Linked DNA regions of Homo sapiens: region 2 is reported to be linked to region 1. The links are microRNA targets in miRTarBase. Many come from high-throughput screens and were not tested one by one. Region 1 holds a microRNA gene; the other region holds the end of a gene's coding sequence.

What was found. The annotated mature microRNA hsa-miR-346 reads UGUCUGCCCGCAUGCCUGCCUCU and lies in region 1 at 1,192-1,214, shown strand. An mRNA with a match to its seed (bases 2 to 7 or 8) in the 3' UTR can be bound and repressed. Matches are read on the target gene's strand: a 7mer-m8 pairs with bases 2 to 8, a 7mer-A1 pairs with bases 2 to 7 and ends in A, and an 8mer does both.
Region 2: miRTarBase lists AFDN as a target of hsa-miR-346. The part of its 3' UTR that is shown has no 7-base or 8-base seed match.

What each region holds. Positions count from the first base shown.
Region 1 is chr10:86,262,961-86,265,960 of GRCh38, reverse strand. It overlaps MIR346 (microRNA 346), which reads left to right and starts at 1,173; the gene lies at 1,173-1,267. The region is part of intron 2 of GRID1 (glutamate ionotropic receptor delta type subunit 1); the gene reads left to right. RefSeq lists enhancers at 1,154-1,654, 2,032-3,000.
Region 2 is chr6:167,969,467-167,975,039 of GRCh38, forward strand. It overlaps AFDN (afadin, adherens junction formation factor), which reads left to right. Exons shown (of 34, transcript NM_001386888.1): 34 at 316-2,557. The coding sequence ends at 469. Among named protein-coding and RNA genes, the nearest start is that of HGC6.3, 7.5 kb to the right of the region's middle.

The DNA.
Region 1 (3,000 bases):
TGGGCATGGGTGGCAAGGGGCTGAGCCAGGGCAGTGGATGAGTCAGGAGTATGGGAGGCTGGGCTGCTGATCAGCGACTTTGCAGATCCTCAGGGTCATTACTTGCTGTTGTTGCTGGGGAAAGTTGCAAAATGAAAATTAACTGTCAGAGAAGATTGATTCGTTTGATGCCTAACCAGGAGCAGCCTTTTATTGCTGTAAAATGTTGATTTCCTCTTGCCTGCAATGACAGGTGAGTGTTAGTGGCACTGAAGGAAGACAGATCCCTGAACAGAACTTGCAGAAACCATCCCCTGAGGGGCTCAGCCCTCTTCCCTCCAACCTCTATGGCTGCAAGAGCAAGAATGAGTGTCTGATTTTACTCATGGGGTGAGAACACATCTGTGGGTGTGCCAGCCACGTGGCAGGGCTGGTGGTAAGACCTGGGGCTCTGGATTCAGACACATCTGGATTCAAATCCACGCTGGGCCACTTAATAGCTCTATGCCTGTGGGCAAGCCTCAGTGTCCTCATCTGTAAAATAGAAGGGTCATACCTAATTAAGTCCTAGATTTTAAAGCACTTGGCACAGTGCCTGGCACAGGTTATCAGGGCTGGGTCCAGTTGAAATGATCAAATGCTGCTGAAATTCAGAACTCGGATCACTTTTGCAATAGCAGCCATCGGTCGGGGGCAAGGATGGGACAAAGGCAGGACAAGAGTCAAGAGAGGGAGCCGTCAGAGAAGTGGAGTGGGAGGTGAACGAGGATAATTTGTTATAATGGAACCATGCCTGAGGTGGGGGTATGGGAGCTCATGCCTATGGGGGGCCGGGCAGGGTGGGCCACTCAGTCTGCAGGCCTGGGCCAGGCTAGCTGCTCAGAAAGGATGAGTAGCCCAGGTCTGTCCCTGCCCAGTGTGTGGCCAGGGGAGCCTCTCCGTGCCCATGCCACTTGTCTTGCTTAAGTGTGGCTAGGAAGGAAAAGGCTGGGCAAGTGCAGCTCCTGCTTGGCTGATCCAGGCCTTGATGGCAGATAGCTATGTTCAGAGAGTTTCCTGGGGGCCGGGGAGTAGCCCTTCTCCTCTAGGAGCCTCTTGTCAGCAAGGAGTGAATTTGGCTGCAGGTTGGAGGGCTTCCTCGTCTGCAGGGCCAACCAGGAAGGGGCGGCGGTGACACAGACGAGCGTGTGGGAGGTCTCTGTGTTGGGCGTCTGTCTGCCCGCATGCCTGCCTCTCTGTTGCTCTGAAGGAGGCAGGGGCTGGGCCTGCAGCTGCCTGGGCAGAGCGGCTCCTGCATGGGACATGGCTCTTCTCTCTGGTTACAGACTCACCACTTCGCTCCCAACCTACCTCCACAGTCAGCGTGGGGCATCAGGCCAGGCCCTCCTGAGCCAGAGAAGATTGTGGAAACCTTGCTCTCCAGGTGGAGTGGCCAGCCTCTGGGAGGTGTTCAGGAATGGGCTCCTAGAGAGTGTGGTGAGCTCAGGCTGGATCTGAGCTGGGCAAAACTGCTTCCAAGGGGGGCCCACATCCAAGGGACTGAGTGGTGGTGGGATTCCTCCCTCTGGGGTAGTCTCCAGCCTATGGGGCAGGGGTACAGGGTACAAGGGGCAGACAGATGTAGGGAGGACAGGCAGGAAGTTCCAGCAAGTTTCCGGGCCAAGGAAATGTTGTAGAGAACCAGAGGATGATAGGAAAGAACAAATGAAGGACAAATGAAAAGGCCTGGCCAGGCTCCAGAGTGGGGCGTGTTGAAGTCTGAGGGTCATGGGTCTCACCTGTTGGTGGGGCTGGGCTCTTAGCTCCAGCGTGGGGTGGTACTGCAGCTGCTGGGATGGGAGAGGAGGGTGCCCAGCAGTACCTTCTGTGGGTCAGCGTGACTGGCAATGAAAATGAGGTGAATGAACATCCCAGGAGCTCATGCTGCCAATAAAACACCTGACCCGGCAGGTGGGCAGCCTGGATTCGGCTCCCAGCTCTGCTGTGAACTTGCAGAGGCTCCTGGACAAGTCCCTTCCCCTCTCTGGCTTTCTGTTTGCTCCTCTGCAAAATGTGAGCCAAATATTTTCAAGCAGTGGCACTCTTTGTTCAAATGAAATATTCCATGAAACCCACTTTTCTTAACTTAGTGAAGTGGGTTGAGGTGGGGAAACCCAGTGGTCTAGCCCATCTCCAAAGCCTACTTCCAAACATAAACAATTGTCCTAGATTTTAAAAATTAATATTTTAAAACCAACTCTTATTGAGCACTTGATATGTACCAGGCACTGTTCTAAGCACTTTATAAATAGTGACTCAATTCTCACAACCCGAGGGGGAGGGAGGTGGGGAAACAGGCATCAGAGGTGAGGTGACATCTCAAGGTCCCACAACTAGTGAGTGGCACAGCAGGATTCCAGCCCAGGCAGTGGGGTCTAGGACGGGGTTTGGCCTCTGTTCTCGCTGCCTGTAGGTGCTGGCGAAGGGGGCGGCTTGTTCTGCAGGTGAAAGGCCACGGCGCCCACGTGACTTGGTGCTGCACGCTGGAACCCCGAAGTCAGTGTCTGGGGAACCGTCCCGTTGGGCCTGGATTCTGACGAGCTGGGAGAGGCGGGATCCTCCCCGCTGCCGTCTCATTTCCCAGCTGGCCCACCGCGGCCCCGCCACTCCAAGGCCGGTTTACAATGGCAACGTTGCGCGCCGTGGCGCGAAGGGAATTGAATGCGGGAGCTTCTCCGCCAGGCACACACTCTAACCACCAAATTTATTTAAGCAGATAAAATGCAGGGGGTGTAATGTCAGATTAATGGATAAATAACCGTTCTGGTTTTTGGCACGATGACGGGGAGCAGTAGTGAGAAGCCTCATTATGTGCGGCTCTGCCTCGAAGAACAAGCCTCGTGCTGCAACCCCAGCACCCGGGCCCGCGAACAGAGCATTAAATTGTTGGAAATGGCTCCCCTTCACTCGCAGAACAAAGATGTTTTCTCCAGAATAAATTGACTCCCTCCCAGCGCGCTGAGCCCTGGTTTCCCACAAACG
Region 2 (5,573 bases), not on the chromosome of region 1:
CTGTATTTTAAAACTGTACCCCTCAGGTTACACTTAACTGGTAAGAGTCACCTGCTTGCTAAAATCTAACTTACAAGTTTTTTGAGAGTTGACTATGACTGGGAAAAGTTAATGTTGTAGCCAAGAGAACATGTTGCCCTTTTTTTCTAGATGGGTTTAAATACAGCCCCTGTGATTTCGATTATAAGAAAGGTTATAGCACAATTTAACAAAGAATGAGTGAAAATTTTAATCGCCCATTTTGCAAACGTGTGTAATTGTTGACAGGTTGTTTCTAGTTTGTCCAGTAATCTTTGATATTGCCCTCTTCTGCAGCCAAGATGCAGATTCACCTGGAAGTTCTGGGGCCCCTGAAAACTTGACATTCAAGGAACGCCAGCGTCTTTTTTCACAAGGTCAAGATGTATCCAATAAAGTGAAAGCTTCTCGTAAATTAACAGAACTGGAGAATGAACTGAACACAAAGTGAAAGAAAATGAGGAGAACACTTTGTATTTACCCCAAAATCTTTTCAGTTGTGGGTTTGTAGGTGCGAGTTTGAAGAGGAAAAGAGGAAGGGGGTTATATTTCTAAGTGATTTACAATTTCTGTTTCTAAAATTGTTGGGATTTAGAAATGTTTCAATTCCAAGAAATTTTATTTTACTTTACCATGAGATTGCCATTTATGTAATTTAAACACTGTCTAGTTTCTTAATTATCTAACTCACACGAGGGTAAGTTTTTTGTTGGTTTCTTTTTTGGAGTCCTGAGTTCAAAGGGGACAGAACTAAGGGCAGGAGAAGAGAATGGATGTGTCTTCTCTCCCATCTTCCCCTCATCATCGACCGAGGAGCACAAAGAAGTTCTGTTTCTGTTTTTTTCAGAAACTTTATTTTAGCTGTCAAGCAGAGAATAGCTTGAACTATTCAGACTATTGTTGGCACTGTTTAGTAGTGACCACACGCTCTTCTACCCGGGAAGGAACATATGACGACATGCTCCTCCCATGTCCCCTGATGGTGTCTGTTCCCACAATATCCTTCTAGTCTGCATCGTGAAGTGGCTTAGGCCAAAGCTTCCTGTGTGATGACGCACGTCCGAGACTGTTCCATCTCATTCCTCGCAAATTTGAGCTCTTCTGATCAATTCTAAATATTTGATTAATTTTAATTCTGAAAGAAAATTTTGAGGATTTAAGCTTAGGGGATTTTATTTTTATAAATACCAGATTATTGTTAGACTTAATAAATCACTGTTAAATTTAAAGATGACAGTTACCTTGGAAAGTTCACTAATACTTCGCTCCAAGGCGTCTGTAAAAGAAGATATCTTTATTGGAGCAATGTTCATGTGACTGGGAATGACAGAAGAATGGGAGATGAGTAGGGACCCCTCAAGCACAGCTGTCACTCAGAAATTTTAAATTTGAAAAAGAAATCGATTTTCATCTGTATGCCGTCAAGGAAGGAATTCAGTTACAGGGCATCTGTAACTTAAATATTGTAAGAATAACTCATATGGAAGTTCAAGCTATTTTTATACTATAATAGAGTTATTTAATTTTAATTTGTTGAATTATTAGTTACCACTGTCATTTCTTCAGCTATGGATATGTGGCTGATGTTGGGGAGACGGACCTCAGTGTGTTTTATATTGTCTGGTGTTAAGATGATAAATTACTTTGTGATTACAAGCAAATTTTCTATTTGACAAAGCCCTTGGTGGAGTCCAAATGATTTTTCTGTACCATATTGTTCTCTTACACATACGTATGTTAGGAAAATAGGCACACTTTCAAAGAGAATGTTCTCTTACACATACGTATGTTAGGAAAATAGACACATTTTCAAAGAGAATGTTCTCTTACATATGTTAGGAAAATAGGCACACTTTCAAAGAGAGGTATAGGGGCTTTTTACTGCCTTCGAAATCACTTTTAATAAAAGTTGTATGATAAATCATTAAAAATGCGAGTGTAAATATTTTTTTTTACCTCTATCAGGGTTTTTATTTGAAAGTGTGCTCTTACCATTTCCTTGTTTGAGTAAGAGAGTGAATGGTTCTGAGTGTTTAGGAAGGATTTGCTTGCTTGCAGCAGAAGTTCTAGGAAAAGCAGGCACCTCCCAAATATCTTGAGGACACTGGCAGCCTTATGGTGACTAAATCCACACTTTCTTTAAAGAGATGCAGATGAATTACTTTTCTGTTAATATATAGAAAAATACACAGGAGAACATGCAGATACATGTAAATATCTACATACAGGGATATTTGTATGTGTGGTTGTGAAACCCATACACAAGTGGATTTGGCCATCTTTGGGCAGTGAGGTCAAATGTGAATATGTGTAAAAGTGCTTTTCAGAACTGCATTACTATGAGAAAACATCAAAACTGCTGTAGTTTTCCATTTCTACTGTATTTCAGTTGCAACCTATTTTTAATAAACTTTGTATGTATTTAAGTGTATTTGCTATTGTTTTGAAAGTGCTGACAAAGTTTATATTTGTAACATCAGCCTTCCTCGCCCATCTCTTTCCATCTGTCTCTTCTTCATTAAACACTTACTGAGTATGATTTCTGTGTCAGGCAGTGGTTTTCATTTGTGGGGACGTGTCGTGTGCCTCGTCACACAGCTCACGGGTGGTGTCTGAGTCTCATAAGCCGTTCTGCTGCCCAGGCCTTCCTGATGCTTCCTTGATCCCAGCAAGCTTAGGTGGGCATTCGAGCCATTTCTCAGTGACACTGTCTCTTGGTGGCCCCTTTGAAATAAAATATCCGTAGTAATAAGTAAATGGTGTACATAAGGCATCCTGGTGAGAAGCGTCCTAGTGCAAGAACCCACTCGGGACGGCCTCGTGTAAAAGGGTGTGTTTGATTGTAAAACTACACAAGTCACATTGTGAGGACCTGGGAGCTGCGGGAGGCCTGGGCATGTGCGGGCGGGACCTTCTGTGTGGACAGGGCTCAGCGCTGCCTCTGCGCCATCTCCTGCCTCTGCCTATTTCCAGTGGACCTTTTAATGGCCTGTGAGCAGGGGGATGGGACAGGGCAGGGATGGAGAATTTTTAGAGCTTTCATGGGGGGAGAAAAGGATGGGAAGTTGTTGGTTGAAGGATGCAAAGTTTCAGATAGACAAAAGGAATAGGTTTTCAGATCCATGTGCTGCACAGCAGGGTGACTGTAGTCCATGTATTGTAAAAATAAGGACGTTCATGAAGGAAGGAGTGTGTCTTAGGGTTGTAGAAACTTGTGGAGACCTTTTTGATAGAACGAGATGTTTGTGTATTAGAACTATAGTATTCACTTTTACTATATTTTAATGCTTGAAAGGGGACTTTAATGTTTGGGAATACAAAAACTTAGGAAGTCTGAGTATTATTACAGATTCCTTTTTCTCCTCAAGCCTTGTGTTTCTGTTGCTGTCAGTGGAAATAATGGTACTGCCCTACAGTGGTCTGTCATACGGACCAGCAAGCACTTGATCATTTTCTGGTGTGCGCCGTTGGACACAATTTCCTCTATCCTTTATTGAGTGGAAAACTGATTTCAAAGATTTAGTTATATTTAGTAAACATTAAGCAAAATTTAATTCGAGTGACTTGGAGGAGGGAAAGGATGTACAAAAAGTGATAGTTTTGTTATTTCCAGTATTTCATCCAGTTTATTCCAAAAATCACATAACCTCAAAAGAGACATACTAGACTTGAGATTGGGAATTGAAGCTAGTTTCTTGTTTAATTCAGCAGATGTTTATGGGAGCCTGCGGGTGCCTCCTGCCTCAGTGATGGTGACGGGTCTCACAGCGCTTACCTGCTGTCCTGAAACAGCGTGGCTCTGCCCCCAGGGAGCATCACTCCAGGAGGCAGCAGCACATGTTCCATTTACATATGCAGATACATAGTAACTGTTAACAGTAAAGAAGTGCAGGGGACACCTGGAGGTCTAATAAAGTTCCTGGGAGATGGTAGGCTGTTTTGAGAAAGTGATGATCTTGAGAAGCCTTGCAGATGGAAGGAGAAGCCTGAGGCAGATAAGCTGGAACCTCAGGAAGATCAGGGGAGCCCAGAGCCAGAGCCCCAGAACAGGAGGGTGCAGGCAGGGGCTGGAGAGAGCCAGGGGCCACCTGGCACTACCCGGTGGTAAAAGAGTGTATTTTCTAAGACCATGGCAGGAAATGTGACTTGTTTTCTTCACGCAGTGCAAAGCCTCTGCAGGGTTTCTAGGAGGGGCTGGGGCCACCCAGGTGATGTCAGTGGCTGTCGCTCTGGTTGCCGGGATGGGAGGGGAAGGAATGGAAGCCCGGAGCAGGCTCCTGCAGGAGTTGGAGGCTTTGAGGAACCAGATGGTGGTGTGGCCACCCAGATAGGAGAGCATGGAGGCATGGGCTGGGGTGGGCACAGGTAAGCTCTAGAGTTGTTTGCATAGCTACAGAGATGCCAAAGAACAGATTAGAAAAGAGGACAAAACTCAGCTTGGCTTTCAAACAAATTGGTAACCATGGCTTTCTGTTTGAAAACTACTTTCACATGTCTTCAGTGGGTTAGATCTTATTTTTCTCTGCTCTTCTAAATCTTACGTTTTATTCTTTTATAGGGACTACAGGCTTAAATGAATGTTAAATTGGAGACAGTGGTTCCAACTTCAACTTGGAACTTTTAAAAATGATTATAAGATATTAAGTAATCTAAGCCCAAAGAGAGACCTGGGAAACCATAGAGTCAATTGTATGGCTTTAAAAATGTTCCACCTTCCTCCCGTCAATCTTTTTTGTATGAGAATAGATCCCAAAATATAAAAACAGCCTAGTTCAGTTGAGCAAAATACGTACCATGTTCTGAACAGGCGAAGCATAGCTAGGGAGTCTCGGGACTTTGGGTTTGTCTGATTTCTGTAACTGCCATTACCTAAATATTGGAAAATTGCTGACATCGATGCAGAGACTGTCCAGAGCCCTCTAAGTCTTTGTGGACAAAGAGTGACTTATTTAATGAAGCAGCCTCTCCTTCCTGTGATGTGAGATGTTTATTTCTCTTTCCAGTTTTTTAATTATACGTCACCCATCGCAGACTAGGCACCCATAAATATTTGTTGGGTAAATTCTTCTCAATCTGAAGTCTAGTATGTATCTTTGGGGTTGTGTGACTTTTTGGAATAAACTGGATGAAATCGTGGAATTAAAAATTCACTTTTTGCATATACTTTCCCTCCTGCAAGTCATCCAGTTACATCTTGCTTAGTGTTACTAAATATAACTTTCTGAAATTAGCTTTCCATGCAAGAAAACATAGAGGAATGCTATCTTCAGTACAGTAGACGGATTGCTCACAGACAGCTGGAGGCTGCAGTCTATAAATGATTTGATCAGATCTCTCTCAAGAATTCTTGTAGCAAGACAAGAAAAGGGATTGGTGGAATACAAACAAAAATAGGAAATGAAGGAAGAGGAGAGTGCAAAGGTGAGGACCACACAGGCCGACTGCATTGCGAGGCCGTGCTGCGCGGGGAGGCTGGGTACCACATACCAGTTGCATGTATTCAGAAGAGGAGCAAGACGCAAGCACCTTCCGGAGGGAATTTGTCTCAGCCTCAT